Linked DNA regions of Homo sapiens. The protein of the gene in region 4 purifies or fractionates together with the protein of the main gene of each other region. This does not show direct contact. Each region holds a gene or a part of one and is shown on either strand. Other genes may lie near its edges.

The links. The genes of interacting proteins can lie anywhere in the genome.
Region 1: the proteins of STK38 (region 4) and ESRP1 fractionate together in Homo sapiens (co-fractionation; one large-scale study listed by BioGRID). This does not show direct contact.
Region 2: the proteins of STK38 (region 4) and NEK10 purify together in Homo sapiens (co-immunoprecipitation; one large-scale study listed by IntAct). This does not show direct contact.
Region 3: the proteins of STK38 (region 4) and FKBP11 purify together in Homo sapiens (affinity purification with mass spectrometry, with the first as the bait; one large-scale study listed by BioGRID). This does not show direct contact.

The regions. Positions count from the first base shown.
Region 1 is NC_000008.11:94,665,174-94,668,673, reverse strand, and holds part of ESRP1 (epithelial splicing regulatory protein 1), read right to left. Parts: coding exon 3,478-3,500; intron 726-3,477; coding exon 424-725; intron 1-423. UniProt on the Homo sapiens protein: mRNA splicing factor that regulates the formation of epithelial cell-specific isoforms. Specifically regulates the expression of FGFR2-IIIb, an epithelial cell-specific isoform of FGFR2.
Region 2 is NC_000003.12:27,306,884-27,310,383, forward strand, and holds part of NEK10 (serine/threonine-protein kinase Nek10), read right to left. Parts: intron 2,123-3,500; coding exon 2,043-2,122; intron 1,063-2,042; coding exon 976-1,062; intron 1-975. UniProt on the Homo sapiens protein: Plays a role in the cellular response to UV irradiation. Mediates G2/M cell cycle arrest, MEK autoactivation and ERK1/2-signaling pathway activation in response to UV irradiation.
Region 3 is NC_000012.12:48,922,693-48,926,790, forward strand, and holds the start of FKBP11 (peptidyl-prolyl cis-trans isomerase FKBP11 isoform 1 precursor), read right to left. Parts: upstream 2,801-4,098; 5' UTR 2,737-2,800; coding exon 2,608-2,736; intron 2,431-2,607; coding exon of another isoform or gene 2,420-2,430; coding exon 2,354-2,419; coding exon of another isoform or gene 2,082-2,353; intron 1,957-2,081; coding exon 1,869-1,956; intron 1,565-1,868; coding exon 1,531-1,564; intron 1,161-1,530; coding exon 1,090-1,160; intron 913-1,089; coding exon of another isoform or gene 860-912; exon of another isoform or gene 434-859; intron 1-433. UniProt on the Homo sapiens protein: PPIases accelerate the folding of proteins during protein synthesis.
Region 4 is NC_000006.12:36,537,480-36,540,979, forward strand, and holds part of STK38 (serine/threonine-protein kinase 38), read right to left. Parts: intron 3,311-3,500; exon of another isoform or gene 3,122-3,310; intron 2,729-3,121; 5' UTR 2,724-2,728; coding exon 2,593-2,723; intron 1-2,592. UniProt on the Homo sapiens protein: Serine/threonine-protein kinase that acts as a negative regulator of MAP3K1/2 signaling. Converts MAP3K2 from its phosphorylated form to its non-phosphorylated form and inhibits autophosphorylation of MAP3K2.

The sequences.
Region 1 (3,500 bases), on a different chromosome or scaffold from region 4:
CCAATGCTACAGAAATCAAATTGATGACAGGTTTTTAAGCATTTTACATAGAAATTTCTTCTGGTAGAAAAAAATCAATCTAAGTGTACACTAGAGGAATTTCTAGATAAAGTATGCACTTCCATGAGATATTTAAAGATGAAACTTTTCAGACATAGGTAAGCTTTCATAGTTTTAAAACAGAATACAAAAATCCAGCTATAGCAGTATCCCATTTCTGTAAAAATACGTAGTATGTGTTGTGTGTGTGTACAGGATAACAGCGGCTATCTCTTGGTTATAGAATCAAGACTATTTTCATGCAGTTACACTTTTAGTATTTTGCCAGTTTTATTTTAACATAATGAGCAATGTAGGACTATTTTCAGAGATAAAGAACAGAAATTAATGCAAAGGTACAACATACTTGTTTTTAAAACCAACCTGCTGAACTTCAGCTGCTGTGCTCCTGAAGAGTTCAATGTATCTTTTACCCAACAAGTCTTTATGCTTCCTCAACGCATTCTGTGCATATTCCTCACAGGCAAAGAGGACAAAAGCGTCCCCTGTTGGCCTACCATCTGGGTAGGTGACAAAGAGGATGCCTTCCTTTCCCCCAGTAATAGGGCAATGCTGTCCAAAGAAGGCCACCACTTCTTCAGCTGTGGCCGTGAAAGGGAGCCCCCGCATGCGGACAATGACTTGATTTTCCTTGGAGAGAAACTGGGCTACCTCATTGGAAGTACCTAGGGAAAACAAATATTAGGAAGCAGGGAGAGAAATAGTTAAGACATCAACTTTACCGATTTTAAAGTGATAAAAGTCCTGCCAATGTCTTGAGTTCATAATGAAGACCCATACTCCTACTGAACGCAAAATAACATCCTAGAAATCAGAATTTTCTAAATTTGAAACTCCTCCCCTTTTTCATAAAACATCCTTCTTAATTTAGGAAGCTGGCAAGACAATTAAATCACGGGCCAATCACTAGTAAGTCATTGTGGTAGTTAAAGGCACAGGTCCTGGAGCCAGAATGCCTGGGTCCAATCTTGGCTTTACTGCTTACTAGGGCATAATCTTAGTCAAGTTCAACTCCGTGCCTTACTTTTCTTGTCTGTAAGATTGCCTATGTCATAAATTATGAAAATTAAGTAGGGTAATAGATATAAAGCACTTTGGGTTAAAAAAATCTTTTCCTGATTACTCTTTTGCTCCCAAGAAAACCATCTGCAAGTAACTCAATTACCTTTTTTTTTTTTAATTAAGAAAGGTTCAAACATTCTTAGTAAAAAGAATAGTATAATGAATATATGGGGTACCTACTTTCAATATTGATCAACATTCTGCCCAACATAAAACATTTTGTACAGTGTTGTCATATAGCAAATACTTAAATGCATATCTTTGAAACTCATACACTAGTAACATTTTCCCTAATAGCACGTTCTTCTTTTTGCTTCTTTTTTGTTTTTTTTTTGAGACACAGTTTCACTCTGTCTCCTAGGCTGGAGTGCAGTGGCACGGTCTCGGCTCACTGCAAACACCGCCGCAGAGATTCAAGTTGATTCTCCTGCCTCGGCCTCCCAGAGTAGCTGGGATTACACACACACACACACACACACACACCCCTCTCCTGGCTAATTTGTGTATTATTAGTAGAGATGGGGTTTCACCATATTGGCCAGGCTGGCCTCGAACTCTTGACCACAAGTGATCCGCCTGCCTTGGCCTTCCAAAGTGCTGGCATTAAAGGCATGAGCCACCAAGCCCAGCCCCTAATAGCAAATTCTTATCGCAGTGCCCATATACAATGAAATCCCAGAAATGATATAAACAATTGACTTTGCCATCTCCAAGTTGCAATGCATCTATCATGAAATGTCAGGATTTAGGTAAAACCACAGCAACCCCAAATATATTTGACCCCTAACAATATCAAACATTGCTTGGGAACTCTGGAAATGCTCCTAAATTTGAAGTCCTGAATTTTGAAGCCTTAGAGTTTATCTAAAGATGAACTGGAGCAAAAATATACCAGCAGATTGTGTTAATAGGATGCTGTTCCGGTAAGTTCTATAGCTGCAAAATTTTCACCCAGGCTCTGTAATGTAGGAATACAAATGTTCTTTTACACAGTGAAAGTCATCTTCATATAATTTGGCAATAGGTGTCAAATGGCTGTTGAAAAGGTCCAAAATTCTTTGATTCAGCTATCCTGCTTTTAGAGATTTATCCCAATGAGTGGCGCATACAGAGATTTTAAAATATTGACAACATATTAAAGTCAAAAGTTGGAAATGAGTTCTAAATGCTCAACAGGGATATTTTATTTATTACAGACAGAATCTCACTATGTTGCTCAGGCCATTCTCAAAATACACCAAGGCTCAAGCAATCCTCCCTGTCTCAGCCTCCCAAGTAGCTGGAATTACAGGCACAAGCCATGTGCCCAGCTCCAACAGAGATGTTTCAAAATATTATGGTACATATAATACTATGTAGCAATTAACATTTAAGAAAATTGAGTAATGTAGGATGATGTTAATATACATTAAAAGGAAATTATAAAACAATATGAATGAGCAACAGAAACTTACAAAGTAGATATATATATAGAAAAAAATCAGACAAAAAGCAGTCAACGTTTTATGCATGTTACTTCCTTTAAAGTTATTAATCACTAAATAACTGGATAAAAACCACATCTGTTCCACCCTGTTTTTAACCATATTACTGTAAATACACATCCAAAAATACTACGAGACCCAAAACTACCATGTTTCTGGTGACTCATGTGTTAAGTTTAGAGAAAAATTAGAAGCACATGTGCAACAATCCCAGGTATTGCAGCGTGGCCGTTTGAAAGCAGTTTTCTGACTCTTTTCAAGAATATCATTTCCTGGCCGGGCACAGGGGCTCAGGCCTGTAATCCCAGCACTTTGGGAGGCTGAGGCAGGAGGATCAATTTGAAGCCAGGGGTTCCAGACCAGCTTGGCCAACATGGTGAAACCCCATCTCTATTAAAAATACAAAAAGTTAGCCAGGCATGGTGGCACACACCTGTAAACCCAGCCACTACGGAGGCGGAGGCACAAGAATTGCTTGAGCCTGGGAGGCAGAGGTCGCAACGAGCTGAGATTGTGCCACCGCACTCCAGTTTGGGTGACAGAGCGAAACTCTGTCTCCAAAAAAACAAAACAAAAAAACCTAGCCTTTCCATATGCATACAACTTCATATCACCTTTTCACCTTTGTATAGTACTATTTTTAATGGCTATTTAACTATAGTAAGTTGGCTCAAGCCTTAGGACAAGTGTTATACATTAAGCTCACTGTTATTATCGGAAGCTTCTACCTCTGGGGAAGAAAATCTATTCCCATGTTCCATTAGAAAATAAAAACCATTCATGACCCTATTCACCTACTCTTGCTAAATTTAAGTATGCAAAATTTTTAGATTCTTATTAACTAAAGCCACATTATGTAAAAGGCACTTACCACCAGCAATTTTAAGGAAATCT
Region 2 (3,500 bases), on a different chromosome or scaffold from region 4:
CCAATTTCATGCCTCCATGTCCAAGCACATACTGTTTTTATGTTGTCTCTCTCTCTCTGCCTAGATATCTTCTCTTTCCTCCAGGAAACTTTGCATGACTCCACATTCTAATTGGGAAGTCTCTGCTCCATGTTCCCAGAGTACCCTGTGCATCTGTCTACCGTATCAGTTATAGCACTGTTTGACCCTCTTCTACACTACATATTTATAACTTATTCATCTTTGGTTTTCAACACCTGGTACCAAGCTTGGAACCTTGTTTGTTCAGATAACCAAGTCTATAAGTATTATCTATATTTAATGCTCTTTTATGAGAGTTTTGAAGAAGAATCCAAAAGGATTTACTATGAGTTAAGTGTCAGGGCTCCATTGCTGGAGATTTCTTTTTATCTATTTTGCCTCTTTAGAAAATTACTCAACTAAATATCAAATGATATAGATTGCAACTCTATTTAAGTACAATCTAATAACTATCTGGATAGTTATTAGAACAATATGCAGTTCAAGTAAAAATGAATCCATTTTACTCTAGATTTTGAGTTATCATAGCAGGTGATCACAAAACAAGTCAGTTGCTATCTTATTTTACTTGCCTTCATGCAAATGGATTTTAGCAACCTAATCACTTATTGTAATATACAATTTGAAATTACTAAAACTAGAGCCACCTCAGAGTTTCTTTCCCTAAAAAGGCAGGATATAAATAAATGCAATAAACAAAACATTAAAAATGATATCACAAAAATTTATTTCATCAGCTTCTATGCCCAGATCTAGAAGTAATGCAGGACTAAACATAAATGGATATACTTCTTTGCTCTATTTTCTTTATATAAACTTAAACAGAAAATAAATGCCAAGCTGACTCATCATATTCAGTTACAATGTAAATAACATGACGTAATAAAAATAATAACAAGTGTATCTGTCAAATAAAGGCACTGCATTGTCTTTTTCTACTGTTAGCAATCCTACCTTTTAGAAAGCAAGTCATATTCATGTAAAATCATCAACAGATTTTCTACAATGTTGAGTTCACTTATCTTCTCCCTACATTCTTGACTATAAATTGAAAAATATTAGCAATTACTAAAAGCATATTTTGCTAGATCCATGTATTAGTCCTTTTTCAAACTGGTATAAAGAACTGCCTGAGACTGGGTGATTTATAAAGGAAAGAGGTTTACTTGACTCACAGTTCAGCATGGCTAGGGAGGCCTCAGGAAACTTACAGTCATGGTGGAAGATAAAGGAGAAGCAAGGCACCTTCTTCACAAGGCAGCAGGAAGGATAAGTGCCGAGCCAAGGGGGAAGAGCCCCTTATAAAACCATCAGATCTCATGAGAACTCACTCACTATCATGAGAACAGCATGGAGGAAATGGCCCCATGATTCAATGACCTCCACCTGGTCTCTCCCTTGACATGAGGGAATTATGGGGATTACAGGGATTACAATTCAAGATGAGATTTGGTTGGGGACACAAAGCCTAACCATATAAATTTATTTATTTAATATCCTAGCTCCAATATTATCTTGGGAGAAGAGATCAAAAAACAAAAGGAATCATATGTTATTCACAGAAAAGCAATGGTCCACTTATTGTCATAAAAACATTTAAAATAATCATGACATTTATAAGAGGAAAGATCTTCTTGAAAATTTTTCAAAGCCCACAGATGTTTGAAAACGTTCTGTATGTTAAAATTCACAGGTAAGAATGAATTAAGATGGTCAGAAAGATTCAACTGCCAAAGAAATATTATGGTAATTTTGAAATTAGAAGTAACTGAGGGTTAGATGAAAAGACTAAATATTTCCAGTCAGGAAATAAAAAGAAAATTTTAAACTGCAATTTGCCTTTCCAGTTTAAATTTTTAAATAATGCCTTCTATCCAGGATTCTCTTCAACATGTTATTTCACACTTATTTATCAAGAAATTGTATTAAGTAGTTGACAAAGTAACTGATTATTTTGCATCCTTACCACCTAAATTGCTATAGTAGCAGAACTGGAAAGTATATTAGAATACACTACTTACCTTTCTGCTAAACTAGCCAGAGCCAGAAGGGAACCCAATAGAACATTAGTATCTCGGGCACCAAGTAAATTTACTAATGTCTGAAAAATGAAGTAAAATAAAGTTTAATTATATAAGTACTACAAGCTTCTTTTTTCAACATTAACATTAATTTATTTTCCATTACCAGCTGCTTGAATGACAAAATGCTTCCCTCTTAAGATCATATAGGCTTAACTGTTTTTTTTTTTTGCTTAGTAGTTTATAATGTATGTGCATATACAATTAAGCACAAACTATATATAATGTTAAAGCTGCTCTCTCTTATGTTTTTTTCTTAATGTTATCTACTGAAATTTTTTCATGGCATTAAATATATCTTTATAAACACTTTTTGTCAATATAATCAAGTTGTTTATTTTATTATGGCTTTACCCATAGAATAGTGAAAAAAATTATGCCCTATCAAGCCTTATGCAGCTTCCTTTTTATTTTTTGCAGTCAATATAAAAGTTTATCTTAAAAAGAGTTTTATTAAACATTCAAAATATCCAGTTCTTTACAGATGGCAGGAGTCCATCTCTCCTTACTTTGGAACTCTTGATAGTAACCTCTTGTAGCCATTCCTTGCCCAGGACAGGAAGAAAAGGCATCAAGCTACATGACCAGCCTGGTTCTCATACATCCTTCTATTTCCATGTGCCCAAGTATTCTCTCCCCCTTCTGATCCCACGCTGGGAAGAACCAGGAAGATTAATGACATAAATTACAATAGTGGTAGTGATCAGCCATTGAGAACTCACTTTGAGCCAGGCATTGTGCTAGGCACTTTCCAAATTATGAAACGATTTTTCAACAAAATATTGAAACTTTCATTCTTTTGCCAAACTAAACAAGATATGAATACTATCGAGCATTCCATTTGCCTCCCAGATTTCTAATTGATGTTGAAAGTGCATCACTGATGCTCCCAAGCATCATCCTAACTAACATGACTTAGCTGGAAGTCTGTAGCTTGTCAGTGGCTTTCCCTGAATTCTCGTTAAGGCAAATTTTCTTATTTGGAAAATTCTCTACATTTTCAGAATGCGGAGTGCCCCTGAAAAGTGCCTCCCAAAATGTCTCAGGTCAGAGCTGCAACCTGCGCAACAACGGCTAAGGTAATTTTTATGTTTCCAGTATATGGATTTTTTGCCTTTATGATTTCATTTTATCTTAATGAAGTTATCATTATCTTTATTTGTCTGATCCTTTCCTCTTTTTCTTCTCTCTTTCTTCTCTGTCTTCTAATGTTTCCCAAACTTCAATCCATTACATATCATTTTCACATTTTTTGCCATATTCAACTAACATCTTTAATGTTAACTCAAAAAAATTTTTTCCAATTGTAAGCAATAATACCTGTGAAATAGCTGGCTACTGAAACAAAAAATGTTGACCTGTGTATCACCTAGAATCATCCTCTAGACCATGAGCAGC
Region 3 (4,098 bases), on a different chromosome or scaffold from region 4:
GCTTAAGAAGTAAAGGGGCAGGTGGAACAGAAATGAGTGGGCAGAAGAGGTACAAATAAGCAGCACTGGGAATGGGGAGGTAATAGGGCTTTGGGTAAAAGTTTCTCCTTGGTCCCCCTACCCTCCTTCCAGGCCTTCCTCTAAGCTGGAACTAGGATAAGAATTAACGAGCCCAGCCAGGCGCGGTGGCTCATGCCTGTAATCCCCGCACTTTGGGAAGCCAAGGCAGGCGGATCACCTGAGGTTGGGAGTTTGAGACCAGCCTGGCCAACATGGAGAAGCCCCATCTCTACTAAAAGTATAAAATTAGCCGGTCGTGGTGGCGCATGCCTGTAATCCCAGCTACTCGGGAGGCTGAGACAGGAGAATTGCTTGAACCCGGGTGGCGGAGGTTGTGGTGAGTGAAGATTGCACTATTGCACTCCAGCCTGGGCAACAAGAGTGAAACTCCATCTCAAAAAAAAAAAAAGAATTACGAGCCCAATACTCTGTGGAGTACAACACATTTTAGCTAATAGAACATTTGTTAGAACTGAAAGCAAAAGATATGCATCTTGGGAAATCTGTCCATCTCAACCCTTCAAAAATAGACATCGGCAGTGACCAATGATGGCTTTTAAAGTTATGGGGCAGACTTGGCTTTAACAGTTGCTTTTTGTTTTGTTTTGAATCACTTGACTGTGATTATTTTTACTGTCTCTTCCCTGATGGAGGCTGAAAGGAAGGGGTGGGGGGTGGCTGTACAGCTGACACAGCGTAGAGTTGTAGAAAAGGGCAGGAAAGAAGTCCAGTGTTCTGGGAAAGGTGGTGGCACAGGCAGCAGACCCATGTGGCCCAAGCAGGTCTCTTCCCTAACAAGTTACTGGCTGCTGGAGGTCATGCCAGGTGGCCTCATCAGGTTGTCTTTAGTCCCTGTTGGTGATATGAGGAGGAAAAAGGTGGCCCTGTAGATGGAGGCCCCAGCCACTCCTATCTGTCTAAACAAACTTGGTCTGGATCTTCTCAAGCATCAAACAAAGTATATAGCTCCTTATAGCTCTTAGGGACTGGGTATTTTGATGGCCTGAGAGAGAGTCCTAGTCAGATTACCTGGGACAGATGGTGGAAATCCCCGTTTTCCATAGGCCAAGTGAGAAGGAATGATTGCCCTTCGCTTCTCTCTGAGGGAAGGAATGTCAGTCACAGCCAGAGGCAGGAGAGGTAGGCCAGCAGCCTCAGTCCAGCTGAAGCTCCTTCAGCAAAACCCCCTGAATCTTCACACCCAAAACACGAATTTTTCCACCTGAACACCAAACAGGCTGGCCAGCAAAGGTGTCCATCTCCCCATGTGCCTCAACTCCCCCGACAAAAGCAACAGCGCAAGAGGCACAGAGGCTTTGAATGCCCTCAGAGGTCCCACTGACCTGGACCTGTCCAGTGGGAAGCAGGGTCCTTTATTCCACATTCTCCTGCTTAAGGAGTGAGGATGGCCGAGAAAGCCTCTACCCATGCAAAGGGGGTACCCAGGCCCACCCCTGCCGAGATACTCACCCCACACACATGTCGAGAAGACTCTGCTCCAGACCTTGAAGAAGAAGACACAACTGAACTGGAAGCTATCCACCTTCCCCAAATCCCATGACATGAAGATCAAAGTCTTCCTCCTCCATCCTCAATTGACCTTTCCCTCACTTCTTAAATCTCTGGCTTCCAATAGGATATGGGACAAGTGGAGTACTAGAAGTGAGGTTTGAACCTCAGGAGGTAACTCGTAGAGCCCTAGGGTCTTACTCATTTCAGGGGGGATTTCCAGGGCAGCTTTGGAGCCGAAGAGGCTAAGAAAGGGCTTAGGTTGGGAAGAGGTGGAATGGGAGGCACAGGTCACATACCTGGAATCACCTGCTTTTGGCCAAGTTCTATAACCAGAGGGTCTCTGGTCAGGGAGGTGTCAATAATACGTCCATCTACCAAGCTTCCCTGGGGGGAGAGAGCATCAAGAGCATACATCTAGCACCCTCTCCCTCCCAGCAGGCGCGCAACACACACCTGGACCGCTGGGCGGCGGCAGCCCCCTTAGTGCGGCAGCCTAGCGTTCCCCTTACCGCTGTAAGGAACAGGAAGCCCCAGAAGGCTGGCGCTTCTCGGAGATCTCTCCACCCTGCACTTCTCCGTGCCAGGTAGGAACTGGCAGAAAAGCAAGGAGGGAAAAGAGGCACGGAAGAGCAACGTCTCTCCCCTCGCCACGTGCTCGACGACCCCAGAGCCCCGAGTTTCTTCTCCCGAACCGCTTGCCACGTGTCCAAGCCAAAGCTGACGTGTTTCAGCAGGGCGCCGCCCCCTCCCAGGCCCCGCCCCGGCCCCCCAGACCCCTCACCGTGTAGTGTATGTGAAGCGTGTCTCCAAAAGCAGCGGGCTCGGCACATGGTTCTGGGGGCTCCACCTACGATCGGACTACAGGGGTCACGGATGCTCTTCCAAAGATCCCGTTCTCGCCCCTAGACCCGGCACCACCCCCAACTCAGTTCCCGCACTTCCTCTCCTCCCGGCTCCCAGGTTCGCTGAGACCCCAGTATTACCACCCAACAAGGCTCGGCCCACGGGGGCTGAGGGTCGGGACTATCTCCTCACCAGGGTCTCCACTTGGAGGGTCCGGACGGGACTTTCGGTTTCGAGCCCAGCCTCAGCCCGGCACACCGCCGCACTGAGCAGCAGCAGCAGCAGCAGATGGAGCGGGAGGAGTGAGGGGCGCAGGGTCATGACTGGGCGCGGGGCAGGGAGCCGGGGCACCAGGACAGGCTGTTCGGGTGGCGGCAGCCAGGACAGCGTTCCCGCGGCGCCCAGGCCAGACTGGACGGGACGGGGCGGGTCGCGATGCTAGAGCTCCTCCTCCTGCAGCCCTTCCTCCACCTTGTCCCCACCTCCGAAAGGGAGGAGGCCGAGGGGCGCCCTCTGTACCCTCCAAGATCCGGAGGGCGCAGGTTCTGACGCATCCGTTAGACGTTCTGTCCTATAACGTGGGTCGGGCCAAACAATAGCACCCATTTACGATTACCTACTGTGTGTCAGGAGCTAGTCTCTAATCCTCAAAACCACCCTGAAAGGTCGGCATGATTGTTTCCATTTTACAGATAAGGCACAGGGTGCTCAGGATGTGCCCAAGGTCATCAGGCTAGGTGGTGACAGAGACAGGATTCAAACCCAGGACTGCCTGAGTCCAACGTGGTTGCTGTCTGTTCTTCCAAGTCGTCTCCTTGTGGCTATCCTGGCAGTGTCTGGCTGGCAGACCCCACCCAGGCAGTTCTCATTCCTCTCCGACCTCCAGCTACTTCAGCTTGAATTTCTGGAGGTTATAGATCCAAGTATCCGAAATAAGGCAGGGGGCTGTCCTATCCCTGTCCTTTGAAAAGCTAGCTGAAAAGAGCAAGGAGCTGTTATCCTGTAAGAACAGGGTAAATCCCTGATCTTTTCCTCTGGTGCTACTATTTCCTTTCTCCTTTCATCAACAAACTTCTCAAAGGGCAGCACACGTAATCCATTTATGTAAAGACTTCACTTTTTTTTTTTTTTTTTTTTTTGAGATGGAGTCTCGCTCTGTGGCCCAGGCTGGAGTGCAGTGGTGCCATCTCCACTCACTGCAACCTCCGCCTCCCAGGTTCAAGCGATTCTCCTGCCTCAGCCTCCCAAGTAGCTGGGATTACACCCGCCACCACGCCCGGCTAATTTTTGTATTTTTAGTAGATAAGGGGTTTCACCATGTTGGCCAGGCTGGTCTCAAACTCCTGATGTCAGGTGATCCGCCTGCCTCGGTCTCTCAAAGTGCTAGGATTACAGGCGTGAGCCACCAGATTTCTTTTTTTTTTTTTTTTTTTGAGGGGGAGGAGTTTTGCTCCTGTTGCCCAGGCTGGAGTGCAATGGCGCGATCTTGGCTCACCGCAACCTCTGCTCCCGAGTAGCTGGGACTACAGGCATGCGCCACCATGCCCAGCTGATTTTGAATTTTTAGTAAAGACAGGGTTTCTCCATGTCTGTCAGGCTGGTCTCGAATTCCCAACCTCAAGTGATCCACCCACCTCGGCCTTCCAAAGTGCTGGGATTACAGGTATGAGCCACCACGCCCAG
Region 4 (3,500 bases):
CTGAAAAGAACCCAGGTGTTTATCAATAGGAGAATGGACAAACAAAGATATAGTCAGAAGACAGAATAGTACCAACAATAAAAAGGAACAAATTATTGATGCATATAGCAACACAGAGGAACCTCAAAAATATGCTGGCCAGGTGTGGTGGCTCACACCTGTAATCCTAGCACTTTGGGAGGCTAAGGTGGGAGGATCACTTGAACCCCGGAGTTCGAGACCAGCCTGGACAACAAAGTGAGACCCTGTCTCTACAGAAAATTTTAAAAATTAGCCAAGCATGGTGGCATGCACCTGTAGTCCCAGCTACTTGGGAGGCTGAGGCAGGAGGATCGCTTGAGCCTGGGAGGTCAAGGATGCAGTAAGCTATGATAGTGCCACTGCACACCAGCCTGGGCAACAAAACAACACCCCGTCTCGACAAAAAAAAAAATATGCTAAATGAAAGATGCCTTGCTCAAATGAGTACATACTACATGTTTCCATTTATGTGTTCCACTTGTATGAAATAGGCAAAACTATGATAGAAACAAAATCACAACCAGGCACGGTGGCTCACGCCTGTAATCCCAGCACTTCAAGAGGCTGTGGCAGGTGGATCACGAGGTCAGGAGACTGAGACCATCCTGGCTAATACAGTGAAACCCCGTCTCTACTAAAAATACAAAAACAAAATTAGCCGGGCTTGGTGGCAAGCGCCTGTAGTCCCAGCTACTCGGGAGGCTAAGGTGGGAGAATGGCGTGAACCTGGGAGGCGGAGCTTACAGTGAGCCGAGATCACGCCACTGCACTCCAGCCTGGGCAACAGAGTGAGACTCCGTCTCAAAAAAAGAAAAAAAGAAAAAAAAAAAATCACAACAGTGGTTGTCTTTGTCTAAGGTTGAAGAACCAAGAGGCATGAAAACTTTTTCTGGGAGACGTAATGTTCTGTTTTGATAAAGGTTTAAGTTATACAAGTGTATGCAATTGTCAAAACTCATAAAATGGTACCCTTGAACTTGTGCATTCCATTGTATATAAATTTTACACCCTTCCCCAAAAAGTATAAATACTGAATTCTAGTTAATGTTATATAAGCAGAAATATTCAGAAGTATACTGATGTCTACAACATACCTTGAAGTGAGGCAAAAAATTAAGATGGATTGGCCGGGCACAGTGGCTCACGCCTATAACCCCAGCACTTTGGGAGGCCAAGAGGTCAAGAGATCAAGACCATCCTGGCCAACACAGTGAAACCCTGTCTCTACTAAAAATACAAAAATTAGCTGGGCGTGGTGGCGCATGCCTGTAATCCCAGCTACTCGGGAGGCTGAGGCAGGAGAATCACTTGAACCCAGGAGGCAGATGATGCAGTGAGCCAAGACCACGCCACTACACTCCAGCCTGGGTGACAGAACAAGACTCTGTCTCAAAAAAAAAAAAAAAAAAAAAGGAAATTAAGATGGATTAATGACAGATACAAGAATGGATAGATGGATATGCAGTTAAACAAATATAATAAATAACCATTATAGACTCTAGATGATATATATGTATATATTCACTGTTTATTACAAGTTTTCTGTACTTCTGAATACTTTCATAGTAAAATATTGGGAAAAATTTTTTTTTAATTATGAGTTACAGCCAAGCAGTGGCTCATGCCTGTAATCCCAGCACTATGGGAGGCCGAGGCAGGTGGAATGCCTGAGGTCAGGAGTTCAAGACCAGCCTGGCCAACATGGTGAAACCCCGTCTCTGCTAAAAATACAAAAATTAGCCAGGCGTGGTGGCTCACACCTGTAGTCCCAGCTACTGAGGAGGCTGAGGCACGAGAACCGCTTGAACCCAGGAGGCAGAGGCTGCAGTGAGCTGAGATCATGCCATTGCACTCCAGCCTGGGCAACAGAGTGAGATTCGATCTCAAAAAAAAAAAAAAACCAATAAATAAATTATGAGTTACTAAGTGGACAGTATACACCAGATCAGTAATAACAATAGCTGATACTACCACCATTAACTAAGTGACTACTATGTGTGAAACACTATGGTACATACTCACATATGTTATATCTAATCCCCAACACAATCCTGCAAGGCAAGTAGTATTATCCCCATTTTCCTGATGAGGGAACCAATTCACAGAAAGACTAAGGAACTTATTAGAGCTTCATACAGCTATTCAATGAAACTGGCAGGACTCTAAACCCAAGTCTGACTCCAAAAGGGCTGCTATTCCATTATACCACTCTGCCTTAACAATCAACTCCTTGGATTGGGCCTAATTTTTTTTTTTTTTTTTTTTTTAAGATACAGAGTCTCAGTGTTGCTCAGGCTGGCCTCAAATTCCTGGGCTAAAGCAATCCTCCCAACTCAACCTCCCAAGTATCATTTTTTTTCTTGGATTTCAATAGAAGTTTGTGTTATTGACTTGTAGGCATAAGTGGGTTAATGGCAGGGACTTTGAAAAGCCCTTTCACTGTCATTCCATTATGATAGTCTATAATAAGGCTGCTACTATTCTTGTCTCCTTTCAGCATTATAAGTGTTTTACAATACGAGAAAGGAATGCCACAACCATGACACAATTTTTTCAAACAAAATTCTTTACCTCATTTCTCGTTCTTCATGTTGAGCGATAAGGTTGCTATAAAAATTCTCCAGTGTCACTTTGGTCATTGTCACCCTTTCCTTTGTGTGGTTACTCATGGATGAGCAAGGTGTTGAGCCTGTCATTGCCATGGCTGCTAGAAACAAAGAAAAGAAGAGGTGTTAGATTTGGAGTTAGAATCCACCCAGTGTGCACTCTCCTACCCTATTGGTAGGAATGTAAATTGGTGCAAGTTTTCTGGAGGACAAACAGGTAATATGTAACAAAAGCCAGAGAAAGAGAATACTTAGTGAAAATAAATATAAATTACTGTCCTATGACCCAGAAATCCCACCCCTAGGTATAAAGACTAAAGAAACCGTCACACAGGCTTCTAAAGTGACATACACAGGATGTTCAGCACAGAGAGGATGTTCATCATGCCTTAATTTGTGTTATGGGAAGTTGGAGGCACTTAAGTAAGAAAATAAAGAGCTGTGGCTGCATAGGAAATACCATGCAACAACCAGAAAACCAGAAGCAACTTTACCTGTACCTGTAAGTCACACAAATATATCTTTTTTTTTCTTTTTGAGATGGAGTTTCGCTCTTGTTGCCCAGGCTGGAGTGCGACAGGATGATCTTGGCTCACCGCAACCTCCACCTTCCAGGTTCAATCGATTCTCCCACCTCAGTTTCCCGAGTAGCTGGGATTACAGGCATGCGCCACCACACCTGGCTAATTTTGTATTTTTAGTAGAGACGGGGCCACCTCGGCCTCCCAAAGTGCTGGGATTACAACTGTGAGCCACCGCGCCTGGCCCACACAAATATATCTTTATTTATTTATTTATTTGTTTGTTTTTGAGAAGGAGTCTCGCTCTGTCGCCCAGGCTGGAGTGCAGTGGCGCGATCTCCGCTCATTGCAA